4 separate regions of the Homo sapiens genome follow, and all the other regions are linked to region 1. The links come from fine-mapping of genetic effects on gene expression. A gene starts in region 1. Each other region holds a variant in brackets. All regions are shown on one strand. Distances are from middle to middle.

Region 1 (7,456 bases):
AAGTGTCTCAAGGATAGGAGATGCATGCTGCTGAGAGAACTAGAAAGATAAGGCCTGCAAAGTGTCCTCCGGATTTGGCAACAGTAATATTTTGGGGAGGCCTAGCCCCTGGAGTTGGCCTAACAGTGGTCATTTTGTGGAGAGCTAGCTCTGTTAGGAGGAGGCTTTGCCTCTCTGGAGTGGGAAAATAGATCCTGGGGCCGATGTAGGATGATGCGCAGATTTGCGGGTGGGAAGATGAGGATTTTTCCTCTTGATGGTGTATGTTTTCTTAGTGAAATAGGAAGTAAGGGGACAGTGAGAGGGAAGGGCATGCAAAGATGGGGGTTTTGAGGATGAAGAAGATGCAAAATAGCCTTTCTGAGAAGTGACGTCAGACCTTACTGGTATGACTGTTACCTCCATGCAGCTGCAATCAGGGTTGGTGCTTACAGTGAGTAGGATCAGAGGGGGGAAGCAGTGGGCTTGGACCCAGAATCATCATGACTTGAGAACCAGTAAGTCTTCCAGGACTTCTCCAGACTGTTCCACTCCCTTTCTCTCGCCTATCTTGGGTTTCTCCTTTTTTCTTGCACCTTCTTTTCCCTCAACCCATAAACATGCTCAAGCCTTTCCTGGTGACTCAGCACTTCCTCTAAAGCCAGTGTCCAAATTCCTTTTTTCACCATTCTCAAAACATCTGTAACAGAAAAGTTTTTGGAATATCCAACTGCTTTTCTCTTTTTCCTATAGCTTTCCCTTGACTGGCTGTATGTTGCCTTACTTTGGCTGCACCTCGAATTCTGGGGCTCTTTGTGATCTTTTAAAAGCCCGAACGCGTTGACAGGTTCATGCTGGGTAGCTTGGAGGTATACACTGCAGCCAGAAGCCTAGGGAAACTCTTAGGATTTTAAATGGAGTGCATTGTAGTTCACTCTGAAGGCTGAATTTGTCTAACAATTCAGGCTGGAAAGGATGGATGCCAGTGGGAACCACCGTAGGAATTTTTTTTTTTAGATGGAGTTTTGCTCTTCTTGGCCAGAGTGGAGTGCAATGGCGCAATCTCAGCCCACTGCAACCTCCATCTCCCAGGTTCAAGCGATTCTCCTGCCTCAGCCTCCCAAGTAGCTGGGATTACAGGCATGTGCCACCACGTCCAGCTAATTTTGTATTTTTAGTAGAGATGAGGTTTCACCATGTTGTCAGGCTGGTCTTGAACTCCTGACCTCGTGTGATCCACCAGCCTCGGCCTCCCAAAGTGCTGGGATTACAGGCATGAGCCACTGCGCCCAGCCCACCATAGGAATTTGAGGCTTATTAAGGAGGTGAAATAGATAGGACTTGGTGATTGGGTAAGGCAGAGGGCTGAATTAAGAATGACTCACTCATTCCCAACTTTCTAATTCTGATGACTGTGGAGATGGTGGTGCCAACAGCTGAGGGAGGGGCAGCTATGAAAGCAGAGAATGAGTTCAGTTTTGGAAATGTCCAGTTTGGGGTGTCTGTGATATCTAGCTAGAGCTGCCTGGCAGGCAATTGGATATTTGGTTCTAAATTTTGTGGAAGGGGTCTGGGTTGGAAATTGCTAATTTGGGAGCTGCATCCATGAGGATGCAGGCAATCCCAGAAGAATGAGTGAAGTGAGCAAAGTTGTTGGCTTAGAGTGGAATCCTGAATTTAAGGTGCAGATTCACAAGTAGATGTTACCAAGGAGGCAGAGGCTTTACTTACCTTCATGTGATAATCCAGAGGGTTCACTCTTCTGAAACCAAGGTAGTAGAGAGATTCCAGAAGGTGAGAGTCATCCCAAGGTGTCAAATGTAGCAGAAAGAACCAGAGAGATAAGGCCTGAGGAATGCCTGCAAGGTTTGGCAAAATGAAAGTCATGAGTTGCTCTTGCCTGAGCAAGGTGAAGGGTTAGAGTTGGGGAGGAGAAGCCAGAATGCCAAGTGTTGAGAAATGAGGAAGCAGAGGCAGCCAGGGAAGACCATTGTTTGAGGTCCGCATGAAACACTTGGAAGCTAGTTGGAGGGAGCACTTCAGGAGGAGGTTGGCTTGATAATTTTGTTTTTAGGACTTGGAGAGGCCAACCTGTTTAAAGGCTGAGAGGAAGCAGCAAGGCAAGGAAGCCTGGGAGGTGGGGGAGGAAGATTTTAGGGCCAGACCCCACCCAGACCGTTTTCTTGTGGTTTGCCCAACACTACCACACACCCCTTAATCTCATTTAATCATTTCAACACCACGAGGTTTGAAACAAACGGTGAGGTATGAAACAAAACGGTGAGGCCAGGGATTGGGAAGAGAAAGCTGTGGTTCCATCTCGGTCCAGCGTGCTGTCCACGCCAAGAGGCGGGCAGAAATGCTAGCCTCACACAATCTAGGGGACCAGGGGTGGCTGTGGCGCCCTCCTGCCCGCAGGAGGTGTTATCAGTGTCGCGGACTCGGGCGGTGTGCTGCCCCTGGTGAGATGTCATCACGTGCGTGGACCAGGGGTGGCGGCCCTGGTAAGTGTCCAGGGACTAAGGGCTCCCTGCTCTCCAGGTGTGGTGGACGGGGTCCGCATGCATGCCGTCCTCTTCTCTAAGACGCTAAGGCGGCTGAGTTCTGTAAGTAGCGGCAAGAAGAACAGTCACGGAGCGGGCCGGGCACAAAGGGCGCAGGCCAGGTGGCCCCAGGCGGAAAGATGGCCGCAGCCAGAGGCTGCAGGTGGCCGGGCGCGCTCCCTGCGCGCGTCGCGGAGAGGACGCAGCGAAAATCAAACCCGCGATTTGGAAATCCGGCTGCGGCCCTACCCCGAGATAAGTCTTCTGCGGAGGGAAGTATTTAATTTGCATCCAGGACGGTCGGAAGAGGCGCCTTCCCGTCGGAGGCGAGGCGCGGGCGCGTGGGAGCTTTCTCGTGTGCGCTCCTCCCTGTCCTCCGCCTGCGGCCGGGGCGCAGAGTCCGTGGTCATATGAGAATGACAGTTTTTTGTCTGTTTGTTTTGGCGGGGGCGAGGGTGGCTAAAGGAATGAAAGAGCCTTGCATTAGGAGCTGGGCTCTGGTTTCCTCTCCACCATTCTAGCACAAGCTTCCTCCATGACCATGACTCTGGGCAACGTCTGTCTAGTCACTGAGCCTCAGTTTCCCTGTTCATAAAATGGGAGATTGGACTATGATGTTGTCATAGCCCAAAGGGGATGAAGTGGGATTTGCCGTTCCATTTCATCCCACCAGAAAAGCCGCCCTCCATTAGCCACCCCGGGCTGACACCCAGCGTTTTTGGACGGCCTCGCCTCCCCTTACCTGCCTCTTTCTTTCTTTTGCCCGTTCGAGGGTGGCAAAGGCGATGGGTGGGCGGGGCCTATAAATCGCCCCGCCCCTCCCCGCCCCTTCCCCGCCTCCTGACGTCGCCCGCGCCCCTCCGCCCTCCGCGCGGGGATGAAGCCACCACGTGACCTCACATCCGGCGCGGGAGTCCTGAGCCCGCGCGCGCTCCCCCGCCTGCCTGCCGGCTCTCCCCGCAGCGTGATCGGGCGCCGCCGCGGAGGGGAGGGGGGTTCTCTACGTCGCTGGCGGCGGGGGGGCCGTTTCGGAGTGCAGACCGCCCCCCTCCCCTGCCCACCTCCCGCCGCCCTCCCTTGTTCTCGCCCTGCCGGCTGCACGCCGCCGCCGCGGGCGCGGAGGAGGAGGAGAGCGCGGACGTCCCAGGGCCGGCCCGGCCCCGCCGCGGCGCCTCCTTCCCTCACCCTGAGCCGCAGCGCGCGGCGCCGGCCGAGGGCGATGGGGCTGGGCTGAGGCGAGGCGGCGGCGGCGACAGCGGCGGCCGGGTCCCCCGCGGTCCCTGGGGCTGGTCCGGCCGCGAGGGAGGCCGCGGAGGAGGCGGCGCGGCGGCGGCCAGTGAGCGGCCCCGGTGAGCGGGGCGAGGGGCGGGTGGGCAGCGGCGCCGGGGGAGGTCGAGGAGGCGAATGGTGGTGTCGGGGCGGCGGGTACCGGGCGAGGTCGCGGCCAGCCTTCTCGGGCCGGAGTTGGGCATCGCGGGGACGGGGAGTGTCGGGGGCAGGTGAGGCCAGGGCAGGAGCCCACGCGGTGGGTGCGAAGGCCTGGGGGGGACGCGCCGCCTGCCGGGGGCGAGCGTGGGGGCCGGGCGCTTGGTGGTTGGTAGTCAGAGCTTTCGGAAAGTCCTGTGGGAGGTGGAGGTCCTGTGGGCAGAGGCGTAGGGGTGCTGGCAGGGCCCTCGATGAGTCTGTGCGGGACCCTAGCTCGTCCTCAGCCGTGGAGTATGGAGCTGCTTGCCATCTCCGCATTTCACAGATAAAAGGAGTGAGTCCCGTGGAGGAAAAGTGACTTCTGACTTGCCTGAGGCCTCCCACTCGGACTCTGTGGCAGTGAGGACTAGAAAAACCCAGGGCCCTTTGCCCTAGCAGTGCTCTCGTGGCCACTCTCGCTATGGCCTTTCTGTCTCTCCATTCCCTTCACAGAGTCAGGTTCTGGTGGAAGTATGACCTCTGGCTTTTTTGGGGAGGTGAGGGGTAGGGATGAAGGGGGAGGGAATCGGGTTGGGATTGGCAGGAACTCAGCTGGGGGCTTCCCGGTGTGGAAGAAGCTTTGTGACAGGTGTTTATTGTTTCCTCTTCCCATAGATCTGACAGACATCCCTGAATCTTGGTGTTTGGACATAGGAGGTATGAATCACTCACATAATTAGCCGCTTTTAATCATCAGTGTCTTAGAGCTATATTTAGTGGTTATATTAGTGCAAAATGAATGGGTGTGGAGTCGTACACCTAGAAACAGACTTGTGTTCCTCTATACGATTCTAACTAAATGAGTAGAACATACCTGGGTATGTCATGGCTACTTTAGATCTATGAGGCAGGAAGTTAGAATTTAAGGAATCTAAGAAATGCAGGGACTTGAAAGATTATTGCAAAATAAAGCCTTTAAAAAGTATCGTTGTTAAAATGAAAGTGTTTCGATTTGATTCCTTTGAAGGGTGAGTACGTAATGAACAGTGCTCTATCTTTGGTTAGAGCTCAGCCTCTTTACCAAGGTACATGTATTAATTTTGTTTCACTGGAATATATGTGACATTATTTTCTCTAGAGGTTTGTTGCTTTGCTTAATAGACTACAGTTGCCAAAAATCAATGTGTGTGGGCATCTCATCCTGGTTTGCAACCCCTTTAAGGCAAATCAGTGCTTGGAAGTTGTTCGAAGTAGTAAACCTATTATTAATGATTGTTGTAGAACATAACTTTTGCTGGTATCTTTGATTTGCATTATCCTACCATTAGATCAGGCAGAGAGTGAAATAATTGAGATTTTGAGCCTTGTTAGAACAACAATGCCTGGCTTTGGTCAGGGGATTGGGTAGGAAAAGTGACACTATTTGGTTGCTTTAAATTTTTTTTTTTTTTTTTGAGATGGCATCTTGCTCTGTTGCCCAGGCTGGAGTGCAGTGGTGTGAACTCGGCTCACTGTAACTTCTGCCTCCTGGGTTTCAGCGATTCTCCTGTCGCAGCCTCCTAAGTAGCTGGGATTTCAGGTGTGTGCCACCACGCCCAGCTAATTTTTTGTATTTTTAGTAGAGACAGGGTTTCACCACGTTGGCCAGGCTGGTCGTGAACTACTGACTTCAGGTGATCTTCCTGCCTAGGCCTCCCAAAGTGCTGGTATTACAGGCGCTAGCCACCGAGCTTGGCGGTTGATACTTACATAGTTAGTTTAGGTCACCAAATATACAACACACAGAATCCGCTTTGGATAAACCACATTATCGAGCTCATTTTGAAATCCTATTTCTGTCTTCAAGATTTTCGAGATTATAAACCACTTTGTTGTCATTCACAAGTATAAAGTTCTTATTTCCAACATCACTGAGACTGAGAAAAAAGACAGAATAAAGATAAAGTTCCATAGGGCGTCCCCATCACTGCTTATTCTCACTGAGTTTGACCATTGAGTAGGTTGTATATCCATAGTAATATGATATAGTGCCTATGTCCTAAGATTACTATTTATCTTAGGAATAAAGCATATTCATATTCTAAAACCTCATATTCACAGTAGTTACAAAACCACCACGTTATACAAGCATAGTTTGATTCAATATATGGAATGGAAGAAGGAAAGAAACCATTATGTGCCAGGAAAAGTGCTCCTTTCTTTACATATGGTCTCAACTAATCCTCAACACTTTCAGGTAACAATATTCTTCTTTGTTAAAAAAAAAATTAAAGAAGTTAAGGAGCTTACAGTATAAGCGACTTTGAAGACAGACAGAAACCTAGCTCTGTGTTAATGTGCTTAACACAGAGGTTTCTGTCTCTGGGTTTATAAGGTTAGTTGTATGTGACTAGGCAACATAACATCTCTGAACCTCAGATTCTGGTGATAAATCAGATATGTCATCTTAATAGGTGTCACACACTAGATCACCTTCTTTTAGCACACAACTGTGAACTGTTTTGACTGTTTTCTTTGATAGGTGATAAGCTGCCAACTCCTATTCCATTTATCATCCATTCAAATATAGCTCAGTTTAACTCTTAGATATGTTGTACTCATCCTTTTCTCCCTTCTCTCTCCCTCCTTAGAATCACATTTCTTATTTTTTAAAGTTTTAAAAACATTTTTTAATACTGCTTCTTGCAGAACAGGGCTGCTCGATAGGCAGTGTGCCTGGAGTAGCCAGAAGAAATTAGAAATTAAATTTCTTCTTGGTGTTACCTCTGAATGTATTCTGAATATGCCATATCTCATCTGGATCCAAGAGGTAGCTGATGGGATTTAGCCTTGGTTTTGGAACATAGTTTTTGTGAAAATGAAGCTAATTGGCCTATGGAGAGAGTAAATCTGTAGTCGTCAAAACCATGTTGAGTTTTTTTGAGATAGGGTCTTGCTCTGTCTCCCAGGCTGGAGTGCAGTGGCTCTGTCATGGCTCACTGCAGCCTTGACCTTCTGGGCTCAAGCAGTCCTCCCACCTCAGCTTCCAGAGTAGCTGGGACCACAGGTGTGCACCATCACACCCAGCTAGTTTTTTTTTTTTTTGTAGAGGTGGGTTTTCACCGTGTTGCCCAGGCTGGTCTCAAACTCCTGAACTGAAGCAGTCTGCCTGCCTTGGCCTCCCAAAGTGTTAGGGTTACAGGCATTTATCACTGCACCCCGTCCTTTTTTCTTTTTTTTTCCCCCCAGAGAAAGAGTCTCGCTCTCTCACTCAGGCTAGAGTGTAGTGGCACGATCATGGCTCACTGCAGCCTTGAGTTCCTGGGCTCAGGCGACCTTCCTGCCTCAGCAACAAGGGTAGTTGGGACAACGGGTGTGTGCCATCATGTCTGGCTAATTTAAAAAAAAATTTTTTTTTTTTTTTTGAGACGGAGTCTTGTACTGTCATCCTGGCTGGAGTGCAGAGGCGCGATCTCCGCTCACTGCAACTTCCGCCTCCTGGGTTCAAGCGATTCTCCTGCCTCAGCTTTCCGAGTAGCTGGGATTACAGG
Region 2 (7,456 bases), 44 kb after region 1:
TTATTGCTTGTAAGTGTGTATGTTTAGTGTTTGCTGTATGATTTTATTGAATATGTTTAAGAATTATGAAGGTCACTGATTTTATGTGAAAATGACAAATTATGTACCTGTGTGAAGTATATCTTGCCTCTTAGAAAGGTTTCTCCTTTCCTGAGCTGGAATTTTCTTTAAAGTTTTCTGAGAATTAAACTTTGACCAGAAAACCTTCTATCAAACTTTTCTGGGTAACTGATGTGATACAAATTTGATTTTTGTGCATTTCATTATTACAGAAAAAAATGGGAAACATGTTCTGTTAGAAAAAAATATGTCACATACTGCTACAATTATTTCATATTTATCAGTTCAAAAAATTTCACTTATGCTTGTCTTTTTTGGAAACTTTCCTAAAAGTTTTAAGACAAAAGTGGAGAAAAGATGTGTGTATAATAAACACTCATTTACTCATTACCCAGCTTTATCAGTTATCAACACATTGTCAGTCTTATTTTATCTATCTGCTCATTTTGAAGGGGACAGCATCAGACATTATTTCACTCATAACTACCTTAGTATGTGTCTAGAGGATATTTAAAATATCACTATCACATTTAACAGAATTAGCAATTCTTTAGTTTTTCTAATATCCAGTTGAGATTTCCTCATATCTCTAATTTTTACTAGTTGATTTTTCAGTCAGAATCCAAATAGGGATTACATTGCTTACAATTAACATGTAACAATTGCCTTTACTTACCCCTTATCTCCAGTTATTTTGTTGAAGAAACCAGGTCATTTACCTTGTGGATTTGGCCAGTTGCTTCCTCCTGATGTACTTTAACCTGTTCCTCTTGGCCCTCCTTATACAGTAATCCTTCCTTTTTTGCTTTATAGGCATCCTTTATTGATTGATAAGATAGGTTAACTGGTGCATCCTTCCATTGATTTTTTTTTTGATAGTATAAGCACGTAAATATATACCCCTCTCTGCCCTTACGCAGAAGATTTGTGATCATTGTTTGCACCCCCTCTCCCACTTTAACCATATGTCCTGGAAGCCATTCTCTGTCAGGGATCTTGCCTGTTTCTTTTTTTAACTCTGTAGAACTCCATTATGTTATATGTAGCATAGTTTCTAATGCTGTGTGGTTGCTTTTTATTTTTATTTTTGGGTTTTTTTTTGAGGCATCATCCATACTTTGTGCATGTGTGCTTTTTTGTTTTTTAGACTGGAACTCTAACTGAAGATGGTTTAGATCTTTGGGGGATTCAACGAGTGGAAAATGCACGGTAAATATTAGTTAGACTTGATAGTTTATTAGTTTATTTTTAATATTTTAACATGTGCAACATTCAAACATAAAGGAAGTAATAGACAACTGTGTACCTATACCAGGATTAAACCGTGGACATGTTGCCATATTTGCTTCAGATCGCTTCCTTTAGAATATTAAAATATTATAGAAGTTGCCAAAGTCCCACTGTATCCCTTCCCCAATTCCTACTGCCATTCTGAAATTATTTTTGCATATTTTATATTTTTTCTAAGTATAAATCTATAAATAAGTATCCATGAATGATATACTGTACATATGTTTTGCTGCTTTTTTCCCCTCTCCAAACTTTGTTTTCAAGATTTATCCATGTTGATATGTGCAGATCTAGTTTATTAATTTTAACTGCTCTGTCTTATTCCATTGAATGATTAAACCTTGTCTGTTCTTCTACTAAGGGACAATTCTGTTTTTTCTTCTTTTTTCTCTGCACTGTTGCAAATAGTGCTGGAATTAAAGTTCTTACACATAAGTCCTTGTAGGCATGTGGCTGAGTTTCAGTAAGCTAGATCCCTGTAAATGGAAAGGCTGGGCCGTAGCATGGGCACGGCTTCAGCTTTATGCTTTCTCTCTCAGTGGGTAAAGATCTTTTTACTCCACATTCTTGCCAAACTTAATATTGTCAGACTTGTAATTTTTGCCAGATGGATGGATATGAGTATTACATTGTGGTTTTTACATTCTTCTCATTTCTTATAAAATTGAGCATCTTTTCACATTTTGGAGGGAGGGTCATTTAGCATTCTTCTGTGTATTGTGTGTTTATATCCTCATTTTTCTGTTGGGAAGTCTATCTTATTTGTTAGAGGTCTTTTTTATTTTCTGGATAGGAATCTTTTTCAATATTGTGTATTGAAAATTATCCTATTAGTCTCTGGCTCATCTCTTTACTTTTGTTTCTGTTGCTTTTTGAAGCTCAGAAGTTTTACTCCTGTAGTTTTGTTTGTGTCTTCCCCCCTCCCCCTGTCAAAAGTCTGCTAAATTTTGGTGTATATAGCTTGAGAGACAGTATTGTTTGGCCAATGTAATTTCAAGAGTTGTTGTGTCTTGGAAAATAGTATGTCACGTTGTGACCTTTCTTATCTCTAGTAATGCATGTTGCCTTAAATTCTGTTTTGTCTTATAATTATATAGCTCTATACCAGCTTTCTTTTGCCTGATGTTTGCCTAGTGTGTGTTTTGCCACTTGTTTACTTTTCAGTCTTTCTGTGCCATGATGTGCACATTTATTCAGATATATTAGAAATTATTTCTACCATTGCTCCCCCAATTTACATACACATTTTCACATTCTCATTTTTTCTCTCATTTTCTCACTTTATGCATCCCAATCTTATACTGCTTGTTCTTACATTATCAATATTTATACTTAAAGTTCATGGATGTTAATACTGCCTTTTAACCACTCCCCTGCCCCCCAAAACAAACCTATGGACTGTAAGATACTTTTGGTTATTCTCCTCCCTTCCTATATGTATTTGTTGCATAATATTTTCTGATTATTATTTTGGTCTTATACAGTCTGCA[T/C]GCTTAGATTTACCTAGGTGTACTAATGCCTTAACCATTGCATCTTGTGTAAATTGCCATCTTCTGTAACTACATTCATTTGCTTTGTTTCACTGTCACTCTTTTTTTTTTTTTTAAGTGAAAGCAAATTTAAGAAAGTAAAGGAATAAAGAATGGTTCCTTCATAGGCAGAGCAGCCCACTGTCACTTGGGTGGTAGTGTAACTATACAGATTTCTAGGTTTGACATTTGTGTTCTCTCAATACTATGAAGCTGTTATTTCATTTCTCTTAATACCTTTTGTTAATTGGTACTGATAAATCTTAGTCTTTTTAGTAATCTTTTTTTTCTCTGGTTGCTTGAAGAATATTTCTTCACCCTTAATTTCTGCAGATTCACTGTGATCTTTTTATTTGTGTGTACAGGATTCATGATGCTTCTTGATTTCATGCTTTCATGTTTTTCATAAATTCTGGAAAATTTTCAGGCCTTTTTTACTTCCATTATGGCCTTTTCCTTGTGTTTTGTTTTCTCTCCTTCTGGGAATCCTAACCATGTGTTGGACAACACATGGTTTACTTGGTTCTTTCCAAGTCTGCTCCCACCCCTACTCTCGCATCTACAGTGTCTTACTCTTTGTATGTCTAATTTTAAAATGCCCTTTTTGCATTCTTTCAGATTTGCCATTCTGTTATCTTAAATTTACGGGATTCTTTATTTTTTTATTTTAAACATAGGAATTGGTATGGGTGTCTCGCTATATTTCCCAGGCTGGTTTTGAACTCCTGGCCTCAAATGATCCTCCTGCCTCAGCCTCCCAAAATGCCGGGATGACAGGCATCAGCCACTGCCCCTGGCCAAATTTATAGGATTCTAATTCTGTCTTTGTTATGTCTGTTGACACTCTTGGTGAATTGTTTGCTAGCGCATCTTTAAATTATGGACTCATTCTTAACAGAATTTTCTTTGAGCTCCCCTCTGGAGAAGTTCTGACTTTGCTTGGCTAAGAGCCCCAGTGGTAATCAACGGTGTCATACAGGCTTTAACTGACCTCCTGTGTTTCAATCCTTGCTCTGCTACTTATGGACGGTGTAACCTGGGACAAGTCACTTAACCACCCTGCTTCAGTTTTCTCATCTATAATGGGGGTAATAAAACACCTTTTCTATGGTGTGAGGATAATGGGCCAATAAATTTAAAGTTCTTAGAATAATGCCTGGTGCATAGTAAATATTATGCAGATATTAGCTATTTTCTTGGACTTTGGGTGAGGAAAAAGACAAGCTTATTCATAATTAATGCCTTTAGGTCTGTGGGTGAATTTTTTCTCATCTGCCCTTTTCCCAAGGGCGTGTAGCTCTTCAAGAGTACTGGCTTTCCTGAGTCAGAGGGATCCTTTCAGTACCAGCTACCCACTTTGCATGGGGCCAGACTTTGTTTCCTGTCCTTTTGTGGGTATTAAATCCCAAGTTCTTAGTTTACTGAGATGGCCCCCTCCCTTCATCCCCCCAGCAGCCATAGCATCAGCTCAAGTTCACACCCCTCTGGTTTTCTTTTCCCTGTATTTCTGACACTTGACAGTTTCTCTTTCTTAGGAGCTCAGATTGGGATTTAAAAGATTTTTTTTTTAATTACAAAACCAGAAAAGCCCTGTTAGAATATTATCTTGAATCTTAGAATTTATGAAACTAATTCAGTGTGTCTTCTGCTTAGATTTCTTTCACCAGAAGAAAATGTGTGCAATGAGATGTTGGTAAAATCCCAGTTTGTTGCTTGTATGGCTACTTGTCATTCACTTACAAAAATTGAAGGAGTGCTCTCTGGTGATCCACTTGATCTGAAAATGTTTGAGGCTATTGGATGGGTAAGTCAAATATTTTAAAATACAAATAACTTTAGGAAAATAATAGTTAAAAATTAAATTACCTCATACAAGGATTATTTCTGCTTTTTGTTTTAATGACAGTCTATCTTGTACCCTAAAAGGAGCTATGTAATTTCTAAAGCTACATCAACTGGAGAAATATTTTAAAAATCATGCAAAAGTAACTTTTAGTTAACCCATTTAGTACACCTTTAATAGAGGCTGACCAGCTCAGGCCCCTGCTTTGTGTTTAAGGTAAACCAGGGGTCAGCAACTTGGGGAGGGTAGAGCAGAGCCAGTAAGATGATCTCAACTGACACAATTTCTTGGCCACAGGCAAAGGTGTATAAAGTCGTTTGTCTTCATTGCTCTTTTTTACCTGTCTTTTGTTTACTGTGTCCACATACATGCACATGTTTTTGTTTGTTTATAACTTCCTTCTATTTTTGCCATTGGGACTTTTAATTTCTAAGTGCCTGCTTACGTTCTCTGGTTGTTATCATTTTACAGCATTCAGTTCTTCTTTTATAAATACAAAGTCAGTTCATTTTAGAGTTCCCTTCTGGCTTCTGAATTATTTATTTTCTTTGAGGTTATGGTCTCCTCTGGCCCCCACCCCATGGCTGGTGTCTCTCCTTCATGCTCTTGGTTTTCATTGTACATCTGGATGGCACTTTTTTACTCTAAAAATGAAGATCTGATTTGGTAATTCTGCATAGCTGCAGTGAGCTACTTCAAATTTTACCCTTGCCCATATGTATGTTAGTGTTTCTGATCGTGAAGGCTTGTTGGGGGATGGGGGATGGTGCTTGCTCTGTGTCTGGTGGGGTCTTATCGACAGGGGTTCTTAAAGTTTCAAAGGAATAGTTTCAGAGTTAGCCTCTCCGTTGCTTTCCTCACCCATTCTCACCATGCTTGCACATGTGGAGCTCTGTACTCTGGAATCCTCACCCTCATGTCAGCAGCCTTTGCTCTGTCAGACATTCAGTTTATGTCTCTGGAGGAGGACTCCCTGGTTTTTTGTTTGGCTTTCTTTAGCTCAGCTACTCTGGCTGATAAGTGTTCCTGCCTCACCTGGTATCTTGTGTTTGTTCTGGGCTACTGTTTCGTTCCCGTTTGTATCCATCCATAGGTTTCAGTTTGCCCTTTGTTTCCATATTTGAAATCCCTTCCTTCAGGTTTGTTTTCTGTTTACATTTACAGGATCCTCCCTTCCCTCTTCCCTGCCTCCCCACCTCCCTCCCTCCCTACCCACATTTTGAAAGGGAGAGAGGGAGGAGGTGACTGGATAAGTGCTCCATCTGCCAACTACTGAAAGTCCATGGTAAACACTCTTGAAGTTTAATTCTGAAAAGGAGGCCTCACTTCATTTATAGAGAGAATAACAAAAATGGGCTGATTTATCGTTCTTCTCTAAGCTTTTCTCCAACTGAATAGATTTTCAGTAGATTTAGTGTTCAGTGTTGGTGTATCTTCAAAGAAATTAAGAAAATGTGTATAATGGCATATTTCATTGGCCCTGAGTTGCTTTGATGCTTGATCCCACCAGAGCTTACTTATCCGTGAAATGGTTTCACATAGCCAGTCACAACTGTGACTTGATGTGATTGGTGTCATATGATACAAGATGCAGATGTCATATGATACAAGATGCATCCCAGTTTTAGAGATGTTAAGATACGAAAAAAGGTGTCTTAGAATTGTACAAAATTGGCTAATTTTTCACAGTTCCCTATTGTTTTCTCATTTATTGATCCCACTAATTATAGTGTGTGTTTAATATACGTTTTTCTTCGAATGTTTTTCACCAAAAAAGGTTCTTTAAAGTATTAGCTTAACTGGAAGTATTCAAGCTGAGAAACTCTAAACTCATATCTTTGTGCTTTAGCCTGTTCTTGACCCAGCGGTTCTGCTAACCATATCTGAGCTCTATGTACTTTTGAATCCTTTCTTGGTAGCAGAAAGGAATCACTGGATGAGCCTGAAAATTCTGGGGACTACAAGAACCTTTTATCTTTTGCAGAGCTAGTCTCTAAACCCAACAAGTTGTAAGAGTGAAGTGAGATCAGTTTCTATTTCTTTATTCTGCTTCTAACCCTGAATGAAGCAACCCTTCTCCCATGGGTTGCTAGGTATCTAACTCACCATCTTTGTTCATATTTTCTTTTACTTATGTTAGTGATCCAGTAGTGCTCATTTGTTCCTTGGACATACATTTTTTTTAATTATTGAAAATGGCCATAATGTTCTATTTAAAAATGGAACCATGAATTCAGTTTTATGAAGCAGTGCTTGAATGTTGTGTTTTTGTTTTTTTTTGTCTCTTTTTTTTTTCCAGATTCTGGAAGAAGCAACTGAAGAAGAAACAGCACTTCATAATCGAATTATGCCCACAGTGGTTCGTCCTCCCAAACAACTGCTTCCTGAATCTACCCCTGCAGGAAACCAAGAAATGGTGAGAAATCACTTAAAGCTAGATAAAACTGTTGGTGGTTACTTATATTTATTTTTAATTTTTTTCAATTTTTATTTTTTATAGAGACAAGGTCTTGCTATGTTGCCCAGGCTGGTCTCAAACTCCTGGGCTCAAATGATCCCCCTCAACCTTGGCCTCCCCAAGTGCTGGGATTACAGGTGTGAGCCACCACCCCCAGCCTGCTTACTTACATTTAATTCTCATTTTGAAATGTTGCTAGAAGAGGAAGTCACAAGTCCTTTATTTAACTCTTATGCAGAGATAGGAATATTTTAACTGCGTTTATCAGAAACTACA
Region 3 (7,456 bases), 41 kb before region 1:
CCTGTAATCCCAGCACTTTGGGAGGCTGAAGCGGGTGGATCACGAGGTCAGGAGATCGAGACCATCCCGGCTAACACAATGAAACCCTGTCTCTACTAAAAGTACAAAAAAATTAGCCAGGCGTGGTGGCGCGCGCCTGTAGTCCCATCTACTCGGGAGGCTGAGGTAGGAGAATTGCCTGAACCCAGGAGGCGGAGGTTGCAGTGAGCCGAGATCTCGCCACTGCACTCCAGCTTGGGTGACAGAGGGAGAATCCGTCTCAATAAATAAATAAATAAATAAATAAATAAATAAATAAAACTGCATGAAACTACCATACAACCCACAGTTGCTCTCCTGGGCATTTATCTCAGAGAAAAGAAAACTTACATTCACACCAATTGTTCATAGCGACTTTATTCATAATAGCCAAAAACCAAGTCATGGTATATGCACAGGACGGAACACTACTCAGCAATAAACAGGAGCAAGCTATTGGTGTGTGTGTGTGTGTGTGTGTGTGTGTGTATATGTAATGAATCTCATATGTAATGAATCCCTAGGGAATTAGGCTGAGTGAAAATAGCCAATCTTTACAAATTGTATATTGTATATTGTATGCTTACATTTATCTATATTACACTCTTGAAATGACAAAATTATGGAGAAGAGACTAATAGTTGCCAGGAGCTGGGGGCGGGGAAAGAGGTGAGTGTGGCTATAAAAGGGCAACACAAGGGGTCCCAGTGATGATGGAACTGCTCTGTGTCTTGACTTCATCAATGTCAACAGCCTGGTTGTGATATGTTACTATACTTTACAAGATGTTACCACTGGGGGAAGCTGGATCAAGGGATCTCTCTTTTTTTCTTTTCTTCCATAAGTAAGGAAACAATCTCTGTATTATTTCTTATAATGTGAATCTATAATTATTTCAAAATAAAAAGTTAAATTAAATAAATCTGTACACAAATGTTTATAGTGGTTTTATTCATACTCATTAAAAACTGGAATCAATCCAAATGCCCAAGAACTGGTAAATGAATATATAAAATGTAGTAAAACCTTACAGTGAAATGCTACTCAGCAATAATAAAGAATGAACCACTGATATGTAAAACACGAATGAATCTCAAAAGCTTCATGCTATGTGAAAGGAGTCAGACTCAAGACTATCTACTATATAATTCCATTTATGTGAAGTGCTAAAAAAAAGTCCAAAATCTTAGTTATAAAAAGCAGATTAGTGGTTGCCAGGAGGCAGAGGGTAGGGGTGTAGAATGACTGAAAAATGTTTCAAGGTAATTTTTTGGGGGTAATGAAAATATCCTATCAATTTCATGATTGTGGTAGTGACTATATGATGGTATATTTGTTAAAACTCATTTATTGTGCACTTAACATTGGTGAATTTTATTGCATTTAAATTGTACCTCAATAAAGTTGACCCCAAAATTGGGCTAATAAATTTAGACTATTTTGCGACTTGCTTTTTCATTTAACTATATGTTGTGGACTTCTGGCTTCCAGACAGAGAGCTTTACCTCCTTTTTAATAGTTCCATAGTCTTTCATTGTATGGATGCAGCACAATCCCACAATTAATTTAATTAATCTTTCCTTGATGAGCATTTCTGCTGTTTCCAATTTTTTATTCTTTTTTAAATTTATTTATTTTTTTTGAGACGGAGTCTCGCTCTGTCACCCAACCTAGAGTGCAGTGACATGATCTTGGCTCACCGCAACCTCTGCCTCACAGGTTCAAGTGATTCTTCTGTCTTAGCCTCCCGAGTGGCTGAGATTACAGGTGTGCGCCACCATGCCCACCTAATTTTTGTATTTTTAGTAGAGACGCGGTTTCACCATGTTGGCCAGGTTGGTTTCAAACTCCTGACCTCAGGTGATCCACCCACCTCAGCCTCTCAAAATTTTTTATTCTTACAAGTAATGTGATGGTTAACCTTTTCATGTATCTTTGTATACCAGAGAAATTGTTTTTATTGAATAGACTTCTAAAAGTGATATTTCTCGGTTTAAGGATATATGTAATTAAAATTTTTGGCCGGGTGTGGTGGCTCACGCCTGTATTCCCAGCACTCTGGGAGGCTGAGGCGGGCAGATCACCTGAGGTCAGATGTTGGAGACCAGCCTGGCCAAGATGGTGAAACCCCATCGCTACTAAAAAAATACAAAAATTAGCTGGGCATGGTGGCATGTGCCTGTAATCCCAGCTATGCAGGAGGCTGAGACAGGAGAATCGCTTGAACCTGGGAGGCAGAGGCTGCAGTGACCAAGATTGCGCCACTGCACTCCAGCCTGGGTGACAAAGCAAGACTCTGTCTCCAATAAATAAATAAATAAATAAATAAATAAATAACATTTTCGTGTGAAGCACCAAAATGCCTGACAAAATAAGGTTGTGTCAACTTGCACTGTGATCAATAGTGAATGAGTCCTGTGGCTATTTCTAAGGCATTCTTTCTAACCTTATTTACTTGTTCCTTTTCCCACAGCCTTTTCATCCAGTTGACGTTTTTCTTTTCACAGCTCTCTGTAGGATTTCTGTAGCTCCAAACCTTGACTGTTGATGCTTTGTTAGGGCCTGTAGAATGACCTCGTTATTTGAGGATCATTCGATCAAAAAGGAGCACATATGATGGTGGAGAGACAGACATGAAAAGCAATTACTATATAGCATGAAAAATGACAAGAGACTTGTATATTACATATACTGATAATAATGATGAAAGAGAAGATGATGTTGTTGCTGATAATAGCTAAAAATTATTTAGCACTTACTATATGCCAGGAAGAAGTCAAAGAACTGTATAGACATTAATTCATTTCATTCCCACAACAACCCTCGGAGGTAGAAATTATTACAATTTTCCCCATTTGGCCGAGCGCAGTGGCTCATGCCTGTAATCCCAGTACTTTGGGAGGCCAAGGCAGGCAGATCACTTGAGGTCAGGAGTTCGAGATCAGCCTGGCCAACATGGTGGAATCCTATCTCTACTAAAAATACAAAAAAATTAGCAGCGTGTGGTGGTGTGCACTTGTAATTCCAGCTGCTCGGGAGGGAGGCAGGAGAATTGCTTGAGCCCGGGGAGGCAGAGGTTGCAGTGAGCCAAAATCGTACCACTGCACTCCAGCCTGGGTGACAGAGCAAGACCGTCTCATAAAACAAACAAACAAACAAAAATTGCACCATTATACAAACCCCTTGGCTGGGCATTGAAAAATGAGTAGGAGTTAATTAGGTGAAGAAAGGGCATGGATTAGGCCACGCGGTGGCTCATGCCTTTAATCCCAGCACTTTGGGAGACCGAGGTGGGTGGATCACTTGAGGCCAGGAGTTGAAGACCAGCCTGGCCAACACGGTGAAACCCCATATCTACTAAAAATACAAAAATTAGCCAGACCTGATTGCAGATACTTGTAATCCCACAGCTACTCAGGTGGCTGAGGCACGAAGATCACTTGAACCCGGGAGGCAGAGGTTGCAGTGAGCTGTGATGGCACCATTGCACTCCATCCTGGGCAATAGAGTAAGACTCTCAAAAGAAAGAGAAGGGCGGGGGTAGGGGTGTGGAGAGAGAGGGAAGGAAGGCGGGGGGAGAGGGAAAGAATGGAAGCAAGGAAGGAAAGAAGGAAGGAAGAAAAGAACAAAAGAAGGAAAGAACAGAAGAAAGAAAGAAAAAGAAAGAAAGAAAGAGAAAGAAAGAGAAAAGAAAGAAGGAAGAAAGGAAGAGAAGGGGAGGGGAGGGGAGGGGAAGGGAGGGAAGGGAAGGAGGAAGGAAGGAAGGGCATGGATTAAATGGAATCCTAGGAAGAATGAAAAAATGAAAAATGTTTAGTGTGTACAGGCTGGGCATAATGGCTCACACCTGTAATCCCAGAACTTTGAGAGGCCGAGGTGGGTGGATCACTTGAGGTCAGGGTTCGAGACCAGCCTGGCCAACATGGTGAAACCCCATCTCTACTAAAAATACAAAAATTAGTCAGGCATGGTGGTACACACCTGTAGTCCCAGCTACTTGGGAGGCTGAGGCAGGAGAATAGCTTGAACCCAGGAGGCAGGGGTTGCAATGAGCCGAAATGGCGTCAGTGCACTTGGCCTCCAAAAAAAAAAAAAAAAGGAAGAAAAAAAACGGAAGAAAAGTGTGTACAAAGGCACA[CTTTG/G]TATGATAAAACAAAGTGCATTCAGATGTCCTGTGAGTAATTTCAGATGGCTGACATCCAGAGGGAACTAGGGGACAGGAGAAGAAGAAGCTGGAGCAAGCTCATGAGTAAGTGGACGTGAATGTTTCTCATTTCCTCTTGCTAAGTGCTTTCTCACACACTACGCATTTTGCTGGCGCAATCTTACTAATTTGTACTTTCTGATGAAGTCCAGGGGAAGACTTCTCGTTAGGAAGTAATTCCCAGATTGAGATGCAAATGTTGAGAAGAGTCAACCAGACAGAAGAGGAGATGAGTGTTCCGGCAGAGGAAGCTGTGTGAGGTGTCATGGCTGCAATTTTTCTTTCTTTCTTTCTTTCTTTCTTTCTTTCTTTCTTTCTTTCTTTCTTTCTTTCTTTCTTTCTTTCTTTCTTCTTTTCTTTCTTTCTCTTTCTTTCTTTCTCTTTCTTTCTTTTTTTCTTTCTTTCTTCCTTCCTTCCTTCCTTCCTTCTTTCTTTCCTTTCTTTCTTTCTTTTTTTTTTTTTTTGAGACAGGGTCACTGCCCTGTCACCCAAGCTAGAGTGCAGTAGGGCGATCTGGGCTCACTGCAACCCCCACCTCCTGGGTTCAAGCGATTCTCCTGCCTCAGCCTCCCGAGAAGCTGGGATTACAGGCGTGCACCACCACAACTGGCTAATTTTTGTATTTTAGTAGAGATGGGGTTTCACCGTGTTGGTCAGGCTGGTCTGGAACTACTGACCTCAGGTGATCCGCCCGCTTCGGCCTCCCAAAGTGCTGGGATTACAGGTGTGATGAGCCACTGTGCTTGGCCCATGGAATTTCTAAGGAACTGGCTGGTATTGAGGATGGCTAGGTATAAAATGTAAAGGGGGAGGAGACACAAATGAGGCCAAATAGGGTGGCAAAGACCAATCCATGTAGGCCACATTAAGGAGTTCAAACATTATGGTGGTTATAAAACCAATCAATGAAAAAGAAATGACCAAATATCCCCTCTAGGCAGGCCATGCTCCGGGGGCAAAGAAGATACAATGATGCGCAATATGATCCTAGCCTTCCAGAGGGCAAAGAAGATACAATGATGCGCAATATGATCCTAGCCTTCCAGAGGGCAAAGAAGATACAATGATGTGCAATATGAGCCTAGCCTTCGAGAAGCATACAGACTAGCTGGGAAGGTAAAACATGAGCAAACATAAGGAAGGTGATCAATGGTTACTAGCCACATATAACAAGAGATAAATGTGAAATGTTGGAGTTTACAAGAGAGAAAGACAACTGGTTGGGTAAGAGGCAGGGACAGTGGTAGGGAGAAGGGACAGGAGTGGGGCCTTAAAGAATGGGTACACTAGGCCAGGCACAGTGGTTCACGCCTATAATCCCAGCACTTTGGGAGGCCGAGGCAGGTGGATCACCTGAGGTCAGGAGTTTCAGACTGGCCTGACCAACATGGAGAAACTCCATCTCTACTAAAAAAACAAAAGTTAGCCAGGCGTGGTGGTGCATGCCTGTAATCCCAGCTACTCGGGAGGCTGAGGCAGGAGAATTGTTTGAACCTGGGAGGCGGAGGTTGTGGTGAGCTGAGATCGCGCCACTGCACTCCAGCCTGGGTGACAGAGTGAGATTCCGTCTCAAAAAAAAAAAAAAAAAAAGAAAAAGAAAAAGAAAAGAAAGAGTTCTCAGTGAACACTTAGTGTTTCTCATTATTTTGCACCTCTTCTATTGAATGTAGTCATTCTCCTTTGTTAGGTCAGGAACCCATGAGAGCATCTGACTGAAAAATCACAGACCATCACCCTATCCAAAAATGCATATATGGGCCAGGGGTGGTGGCTCATGCCTGTAATCCCAACACTTTGGGAGGCCAAGGCAGGCAGATCACTTGAGGTCAGGAGTTTGAGACCAGCCTGCCAACGTGGTGAAACCCCATCTCTGCCAAAAATATAAAAAATTAGCCGGGTGTGGTGGCACACACCTGTAATCCCATCTACTCAGGAGGCTGACATAGGAGAATCGCTTGAACCTGGGAGGTGGAGGTTGCAGTGAGCTGAGATCATGCCACTGCACTCCAGCCTGGGTAGCAGAGCAAGACTCTGTCTCAAAAAAAAATGTATATAGGTACACATGTATATGTACCATTTTGCAACATCAGGATGCTGAAACTTCATAGGTGGCTGAAACTTGCAGTCTTCAGGTTGAGAATTCCTGTCCCTCTGTGTCCAGCAGACAAGTGCTACCTGAAGGCCATGACGAATTGAGACAAAATTCTAACACTGCTACGTTATTGAGAGAAAGGATGAGAAGGTATGAAACAAATTTTAATGATGAATTTTTGTGGATTTTTGAAATGCATAAATGGGATGATTAATAATAACAAAAAAGCTCTGTTTATATCATCATAAAACACACTATAAATCTACGGGATTCAGTCTCCACTTGTATATCATCTGACACAGAGCTGAAGGTGGAGGAGAAAGGTTAACCCTTCTCATTCCCTTCCCCACCCCACATACAGTTGGCCTTTTCTGGTCAGGTTTCCGAGGCAGTAAGCATTTTTTTGAGCGCCTACAATGTGCCAGACACTGTTCTGGGCACCTGGGTAGAAAGAAAGATCTTGAAGACTCTTGCCCTGTAGGGAAGTTTATAGCTTGGGGAACAGTGGAGGAAGAACAGAAAAAAAATCACACTAATATTTAATTACTTAAAAAAATTGTTTTTTCAAGGCTGGGTGCGGTGGCTCATGCCTGTAATCCCAGCGCTTTGGGAGGCCAAGGCTGGCAGATCACCTGAGGTCAGGAGTTTGAGACCAGCCTGGCCAACGTGGTGAAACCCCGTCTCTACTAAAAATACAAAAATCAGCCGGGCATGGTCGCATGCACCTGTAATTCCAGATACTCGGGAGGCTGAGATAGGAGAATCGCTTGAACCCAGGAGGTGGAGCTTGCAGTGAGCCGAGTTTGCGCCACGTCACTCCAGCCTGGGTGACAGAGCAAGACTCTGTCTCAAAAAAAAAAAAAGTTTTTAAAACAGAGGCAGGGTCTTGCTATGTCGCCCAGACTGGTCGCCAACTCCTGGACTCGAGTGATCCTCCCGCCTTGGCCTCCCAAAGTGCTGGGATTACAGGCCTGAGCCACTGTGCCTGGTTCAAATCACACCAATAAAAGGGGTCAAAGGATGTGTTCAAATAGACTTGTGGAAAAGCTGAGGCAAAAAGAGGAGGTACTAATTTTGCCTGGAGGCAGAACTAGAAAAGAGCCCTGAAAAATGGGGAGGAGGGGCAAGATTCAGGAAGTATT
Region 4 (7,456 bases), 52 kb before region 1:
GAACCCGGAAGGTGGAGGTTGCAGTGAGCTGAGATCACACCATTGCACCCCAGCCCGGGCAACGAGAGTAAAACTCTGTCTCAAAAAAAAAAAAAAAATGCCTGGGGTGAGGCCGGGTGGGGGCATGGAGATTCCATGCTGTCTCTGAGGGCCACCGTCCAACAGCCTCCATGTGTTCAGCTATCCGGAAACTCTCTGAGCCCTGTTTTCTTGGCCCTTAATGGAGGCTTCACTGGATGGGCATGACTGACAACTCTGTAGAAATGTGACTGGGTGAAAAGGGTATGACCTGATAGTCATAAGCTGAGTGGGGAAACCCCGCAAGGCCTGTGTGTTCAGATCCCTCGTGGCCTCCGTGCAGCACTCCTTCCCGCAAGGTACGGGGCAGGACCTCTTCTGAAACCAGGGTCTTGTGACCTACAGTCAAACAAGAGAGGCCAGAGAATTTCTTTATGACCAGCTCCGAGACAGAAATGTGGGGAAAGATTTCCACCTTGGGAAGAGAAAGGAAGGCAGGAGAAAGTCAGAGAGTGAGACCAGGCCTGGTGGCTCACACCTGCAATCCCAGCACTTTGGGAGGCCGAGACAATAGGACCACTTGAGACGAGGGGTTCGAGACCAGCCTGGGCAACTCAACAAAACTGCCTCTCTGCAGAAAATACAAAAAAATATTAGCCAGGCGTGGTGGCACACACCTGTAGTCCCAGCTACTCAGGAGGCTACCGCTGAGCCTGGGGAGGGCAAGGGGGCAGTGAGCCATGATTATGCCACTGCACTCCAGCCTGGAGAACAGAGTGAGACCCTGTCTCAAAAAAAAAAAAAAAAAAAAAGTCAGAGAGATTTTGTTTTCTGAGGCCTGCTTCTGAGGCCTAAAATGCCCCTATGTTACAGCAAAATACTGCAACAAGGGTTATGGGAGTTACGAACCAAGAACCATAGATGAAAACCTCTCTTTCTCTTTCTCCCTCTCAAATAATATCACAAATACTTAGGAACCGGTAAGCAAGGGATTCGATTCCAGATTTAAACCTGGAAATGAGTGACATTGCTTAAGGATAACGTGCAGAGTGAGAAGAGAATTAGGCCCAGGACTGGGTCTTATGATCCCCCAAATTTAATAGTCAGCTAAAGAAATAGGCAAAAGAAACTGAAAAGTGGTCAGAGAGGAATCAGAGAGTTTGGCATCTCAAAGCCAATAAGAGAGTGTTTCAGGAAGGAGGAAGTGGCTGGCTGCGCTTTGTGTTTTGCTGAGAAGTCAGAGCGAGCAGTGTTCCTCACGCAGCAGAGGTCCCTGGCCAACTTAACAAATCCAGCTCTGGCAGAGTGGGAGTGGAGGAGCCAGTGGAGGGAGCTGGCTGGAGGTGGCTGAGAAATGACTGAAAGTCAGGAATGAAGACAAGCAGTGTGAACAACTCATTCAAGACATTTGGAAAGGGAGCAAAAGATACACGAGCAACCAGAGGGGAACTTGGGAGCAACAAAGACATCAGTTTGTTTTGTGTTACGATGGGGATGGCTGGAATGTGTGTAGTTTAAACATCGATGAGAAAGGATGCTCCCTCCGTCAACACGAGGTGCAGATGTGGCACAGGAGGGTGAGGCAATTCTCACAGGAGATTTCTATTTTTTACTTTTGTAGGGATAGGGTCTTGCTATGTTGACCTGGCTGGTCTCAAACTCCTGGCCTCAAGTGATCCTCCTATCTTGGCCTCCCAAAGTGCTGGGATTGCAGGCATGAGCCACCCTGGCCAGACACCAACAGACTTCTATTTTCTTTCTTTCTTTTTTTTTTGAGACGGAGTCTCACTCTGTTGCCCAAGCTGGAGTGCACCGCTGCGATCTCGGCTCATTGCAACCTCTGCCTCCCAAGTTCAAGCAATTCTCTAGCCTCAGCCTTCCGAGTAGCTGGGATTGCAGGTGCCTGCCACCATGCCCAGCTAATTTTTTATTTTTAGGAGAGACGGGGTTTCACCATGTTGGCCAGGCTGGTCTTGAACTCCTGACGTCAGGTGATCCACCTGCCTTGGCTTCCCAAAGTGCTGGGATTACAGGCATGAGTTACCGCACCCAGTCTGAAACTTCTATTTTCTTTATGAAGTTGGGAATCAGATCATTTGCTAAGAGAGAGGAGAATCGGGTGCAGATTTGGAGATCTGAGCAGAATGGAGAAGGTTTGAAACTGTCCTTATGGAGAGGACAGCCATAGACTAAAACATAGAGAGGGATTTCTGGGTCTTTCTACATGCCACATTCCTTCTGCGAGTTCTTCCTTGCCTCTAATTTCACAGCTAGGATACTGAGGATCAGAGAGGGGAAGTGATTTGTTCAAAGTCACACAGCAAGTGAGTGTTGAAGCTTTGACTAGAAGTCAGCAGTTGAGGCCTTTGGGTGAGGACACCTCCACCCCAGGGTCAGCGGGTACTTTTGCAGGTGTCTTTTCTTCACTACATGCAAGATATCAGGTGTTTTTCAAAGCATGATCTCCTGGGTCCTATTAAATGATCTATCACCCCCTCACACAAAGCCTTACACATAGATTGACTCAAGCAATGTTGTTCCAGTGAATGAATGATTAGAAATCAGGTTGTCCTTCTGCCTCAGTCACTACCCTTCTTCCCATCTCACCTCGATTTCAGAATAAGCCAGGGGGAGGACAGAAATGCCGAATCCCCTTGGCATTTAAGGTAACAGACTTCAATTTCTGCAATATCTCCTTTCCTAAATCGGGACATGGATAACATAGTCATTTATATACACCACACCTTGTTCTGAAAAGGCTTTAGTACCTCTAGGGTATATCAATTGCTAAAAATAATAATAATAATGCATTTCTCTTTATTGTGGGTGTCCTAATACTCCACAGAACTGGAATTGGCTATTACAGACTCCACTAATTAATTCATGGTATATCCTCAGGGGCTTGGGAGCTCATTATGTAAATAAATGCAAAATAGATGGCAAATTAGAATTTCTACCCCACAAACTTGTCACATTACAAAGATAAAATCAGAAAAGAGTAATCACTATTTATCCACTCAACAGGCCAGTTGAGCTAATAAGTTTTTTTTGCAGTTACATAGACATAAACCTCATGTGAATGCCAATTAGAAGACTCAAACCTTGCTATGGCAGGACGAAGGCCCTTGACCATGGGATCTGCAATGACCAGAGATGCAGAGCGTAACAGACACAATAATACACATGTGGCAGTTGGGAGTCCTTCATCCTCGGCTTGGTTCCATCACTGTCTTTCATTCTTTTTTTTTTTTTTTTGAGACAGTCTCACTCTGTCACCCAGGCTGGAGTGCAGTGGCACAATCTTGACTGACTGCAACCTCCACCTCCCAGGTTCAAGGATTCTCCTGCCTCAGCCTCCCAATTAGCTGGGACTACAGGTGTGTGCCACCACACCAGGCTAATTTTTGTATCTCTCTTTTTTGCTGTTGTTGTTGTTGAGACGGAGTTTCAGTCTTGTCACCCAGGCTGGAGTGCAATGGC[A/G]TGATCTCGACTCACCGCAGCCTCCGCCTCCCAGGTTCAAGCGATTCTCCTGCTTCAGCCTCCCGAGTAGCTGGGATTACAGGCATGCACCAGCACGCCTGGCTAATTTTGTATTTTTAGTAGAGACAAGGTTTCTCTACGTTGGTCAGGCTAGTCTCGAACTCCTGACCTCAGGTGATCCGCCCGCCTCGGCCTCCCAAAGTGCGGGGATTACAGGTGTGAGCTACCGCGCCCGGCCAATTTTTGTATCTCTAGTAGAGACAGGGTTTCACCATACTAGCCAGGCTGGTCTCGGAATCCTGACCTTAAGTGATCTGCCTGCCACAGCCTCCCAGAGTGCTGGGATTACAGGCGTGAGCCACCACACCCGACCCCGTCACTGTCTTTCTAAGCCACTTCTCTTCTTGATCTGCTTCTTGATGGACTAAACAAGTGCTCTCGCAGCCTTGACTCTGAGCTTTTGGAATCTAAACTATTTCTGGCTGTGGCCCAGGCCTTACACAGCTTTGGTGGCTCCCCAGGCAAAGCAACCACCTGCTTGTCCCGAAGGCAGTCAGCATATATTTGTGAGCAGGAAGAGCATGGTCATAACTGGTCAAATTACTCCCCTGTGACTGGCAAGGGCTTTGGATTTTGTCCTCACCGCTTCCTCCAGTGTTTGAAATTCTGACTGCTGCACTCTTTGCTGGGTAAACTAATGAGTGTATTTGGCTGGGTGGCATTCACTTTCTCCATCACTTTCTACAAGCAGAGCAGAACCTTACTCGGAAAAGCATTTCTAAGAAGCTTCATATCTAAGCCTGTCTATCGGCTGGGCTGGGGGATCGATCATATATGTGAAGATAAGGCAAAGACCACGAAGTAGCCCATGTGGGGGAAAAGAAAGTCTGCCTTCTGACTTGGGCTTCTATATTTCTTCTTCCATTTCCTGAGCCCTTTTTATGAGCATGGCACTGTGCCAGGGCTGGCAGCCAGTCCTGGCCTGGGTAAATGACAGCATGAGGAGGCTGGTAGGAAGGTAGGTGTGCTGTATCCTTGGTGGAAGGGCGATTAACCTCTGGGCTAAGCCTCAGGGTCAGGCCACCAGGCCCCAGGAAGGGAGCTGTGCCTCCAGAGCAGGCATGCATGTTCTGTCTGGAACACACGAGTATGCAAGTTGCCAGAAAGGTCCCTGGACTCTGTTGTTGTAGGTAGGTTCTTTGCTAGGCAATGGGAATTTAGAGATGGATAAAGCATGATCTCAGCCCTCAAGGAGCTCACAGTGGCTGCTCATTCATAGGCATTCCCTCTAAGCATGAGAAGTCCCAGTGGAGTGGCTAAAATCAAGTTTCTGGACATGTGGAAGTAAGGACCAAATTCTGAATGCTCTCTGGGCCAGAAAAATGCTGTTCTACCAGGAGGGCCTGAAAAAGGCAGCTGGACTTTACCCCTTCCCAGTGCAAACAGTGGACTCTATTGCAGTAACCACTATCCTCTCTAACTAGCACAGGTTTATTAGAATGTTAGAAAATCATTATTTCCTTTTATACTTAACTTGCTGTTGACAGTGACTCTGCACATATTCTCTGGCTGCAGCCCTGAACCAAGAGAGGAAACAGTAGCCTTCAGGCACCTCTCCAGGCTTTAAAATTATAAAATGTATCATATTTAGAGAAAAGTATGTGTACAATCTAAAGATTAAATAACGAGGCCGGGTGCAGTGGCTCACACCTGTCATCTCAGCACTTTGGGAGGCTGAGGTGGAAAGATGGCTTAAAATCAGGAGTTTGAGACCAGCCTGGGCACCTTAATGAGACCACCAGCTCTACACACACACACACACACACACACACACACACACAACAACAACAACAATAACAACAACAACAAAACCAAACTAACAAACAAAACCATAAAATAAAACTAGCAGAGTGCAGTGGCACACACCTGTAGTCCCAGCTACTCAGGAGGCTAAGGCGGGAAGAGCTCAAGAGGCAGCAGTGAGTTGTGATCACGCCACTGCACTCCAGCCTGGGCAACAGAACAAGACCCTCTTTCAAAATAATAAAATAATAGGCCAGGCACAGTGGCTCACGCCTGTAATCCCAGGATTTTGGGAGGCCAAGGCAGGCAGATTACCTGAGGTCAGGAGTTTGAGACCAGCCTGGCCAACATGGTGAAACCCCATCTCTACTAAAAATACAAAAATCAGCCGGGTGTGGTGGCTCACTCCTGTAATCCCAGCTACTCGGGAGGCTGAGGTAGGAGAATTGCTTGAGCCTGGGAGATGGAGGTTGCAGTGAGCCGAGATCGTGCCACTGCACTCCAGCCTGGCCAACAGAGCGAGACTCTGTCTCAAAATAATAATAATAATAATGACAAACACCTATCACCCACTAGTACCTTGAGGCTCAGCTGTGTGCCTCCCTGCAATCTCTGCTTCCCTGGGCACCACATCCTCCCCAGGTACTACCTTTAATGTCAGTCGTTACTGTTTGCTTTATAGTTTTGCCCTCTATATGACATATCCCTAAACAATCTACTGGTTGGATTTGAATAACTGAGTGGCTAGCACAAAGCTAGCTGTGTAAGGAAAGAGCACTGTTGCCAGTATTACATGAGATTTCCTGGGAAAATAAGCTGAATAGAGTTGCTGGGTCATGGAAAACAAGCTGAATAGAGTTGCTGGGTTATAATGTAATTTCAACCTTCCTGAGTCTTTAAAAGCCTCTTCTGGAGAAGTCAGAGGACAAAATCATGATCAAAGAGCAAGGCATGGCGGCATGTGCCTGTAGTCCTAGCTACTCAGGAGGCTGAAATGGGAGGATCACTTGAACCCAGGAGTTCTGGTCCAGTCTGGGCAACATAGTGAGACCCCATTTCAAAACAAAAACAAGGCTGGGCACAGTGGCTCACGCCTGTAAGCCTTTGAGAGGCCGAGGCAGATGGATCACCTGAGGTCAGGAGTTTGAGACCAGCCTGGCTAACATGGTGAAACCCCGTTTCTACTAAAAATACAAAAAATTAGCCAGCTGTGGTGGCGTGTGTCTGTAATCCCAGCTACTCGGGAGGCTGAGGCAAGAGAATTGCTTGAACCCAGGAGGCGGAGGTTGGGGTGAGCAGAGATTGGCCATTGCACTCCAGCTTGAGCAACAAGAGCGGAACTCCGTCTCAAAAACGAAACAAAACAAGAAAACAAACCAGAACAAAACATGCATCTATCTTCCTAATTGGAGGGGAGAAAGCCAAAAAAAAAGAAAAAAACAATCGTACACAGGCGCAGATCTAGGATTTGTGGGGTCTGAAGATTATATAATTTGGAGGACCCTTTTGTAAGATTATAAGTTCAAAATTACAAATACTAAATTAGGTACAGGGCCTTGGGGAGGGCATATATGAATAAAGGGCTTCCGTTTCATTAGTTTCAGGTGGATAAGTCTCTAACCATGAGGGTTCACCTGTGTCTGGGCATCTGGCAGATCTGCAGGATGGGCCAGGCACTGAAGACCCTGTAGAAATAGGGTCAGAGGGGGAAGGATGCTTTGTATTTTCTGCTTTTAAGCTCATTAGCCTACATTCAGCTCTCAAGAGTAGGCCTAAAGCACAACACTTCAGAAACGGGCTGTTTTATGAAATGAATACGCTCAGCCGATTCTACCAGCAGAGTGTAGAGAGGTGAGTGGGAATTTCCATAATATGTAATGAAACTGTGACAAATATGGATAAATCGTCCTCAAGTTTGAACAAGGTATGATATCAGTGAGGATTTTTGGGTGATGACAGTTCTCAACCTGTTTCTTGAGTCACAGTTTTCCACATGGAAATGGTTGTTCTCCACATGTTGTACACAGCGATTATCATGGCATTTCCCCTTACTATCCTCCCAGGGAATCTCCTTGCTTCTCTCCTATTTTAGATTCTCCTCCTGGATTTACTTGGTCTTTGCGTGGAGTATCTTCTCCGGTAGCTTATAGAGAAG

What was found. PIP is the estimated chance that this variant, and not a neighbour inherited with it, causes the effect.
Region 2: its variant is fine-mapped to the expression of ATP13A3 in whole blood (INTERVAL, PIP above 0.99).
Region 3: its variant is fine-mapped to the expression of ATP13A3 in whole blood (TOPMed, PIP above 0.99).
Region 4: its variant is fine-mapped to the expression of ATP13A3 in esophagus muscle (GTEx, PIP 0.91).

Annotation. Positions count from the first base shown.
Region 1 is chr3:194,482,981-194,490,436 of GRCh38, reverse strand. ATP13A3 (ATPase 13A3) reads left to right here and starts at 3,435. Exons shown (of 34, transcript NM_001367549.1): 1 at 3,435-3,871; 2 at 4,602-4,643. It overlaps ATP13A3-DT (ATP13A3 divergent transcript), which reads right to left and starts at 3,297. Exons shown (of 2, transcript NR_033929.1): 1 at 3,265-3,297; 2 at 1,892-2,981. RefSeq lists enhancers at 163-282, 2,416-2,635 and silencers at 3,306-3,965, 3,996-4,045, 4,136-4,195.
Region 2 is chr3:194,438,538-194,445,993 of GRCh38, reverse strand. It overlaps ATP13A3 (ATPase 13A3), which reads left to right. Exons shown (of 34, transcript NM_001367549.1): 15 at 1,208-1,269; 16 at 4,533-4,683; 17 at 7,022-7,138. Among named protein-coding and RNA genes, the nearest start is that of GP5, 43 kb to the right of the region's middle. RefSeq lists a silencer at 6,468-6,668. The variant T/C (reference allele first, on the strand shown) is at 2,841.
Region 3 is chr3:194,524,157-194,531,612 of GRCh38, reverse strand. No RefSeq gene overlaps it. Among named protein-coding and RNA genes, the nearest start is that of ATP13A3-DT, 41 kb to the right of the region's middle. The variant CTTTG/G (reference allele first, on the strand shown) is at 4,157.
Region 4 is chr3:194,534,542-194,541,997 of GRCh38, reverse strand. No RefSeq gene overlaps it. Among named protein-coding and RNA genes, the nearest start is that of TMEM44-AS1, 46 kb to the left of the region's middle. RefSeq lists enhancers at 280-329, 4,684-4,978, 4,704-4,998 and a silencer at 4,704-4,998. The variant A/G (reference allele first, on the strand shown) is at 3,499.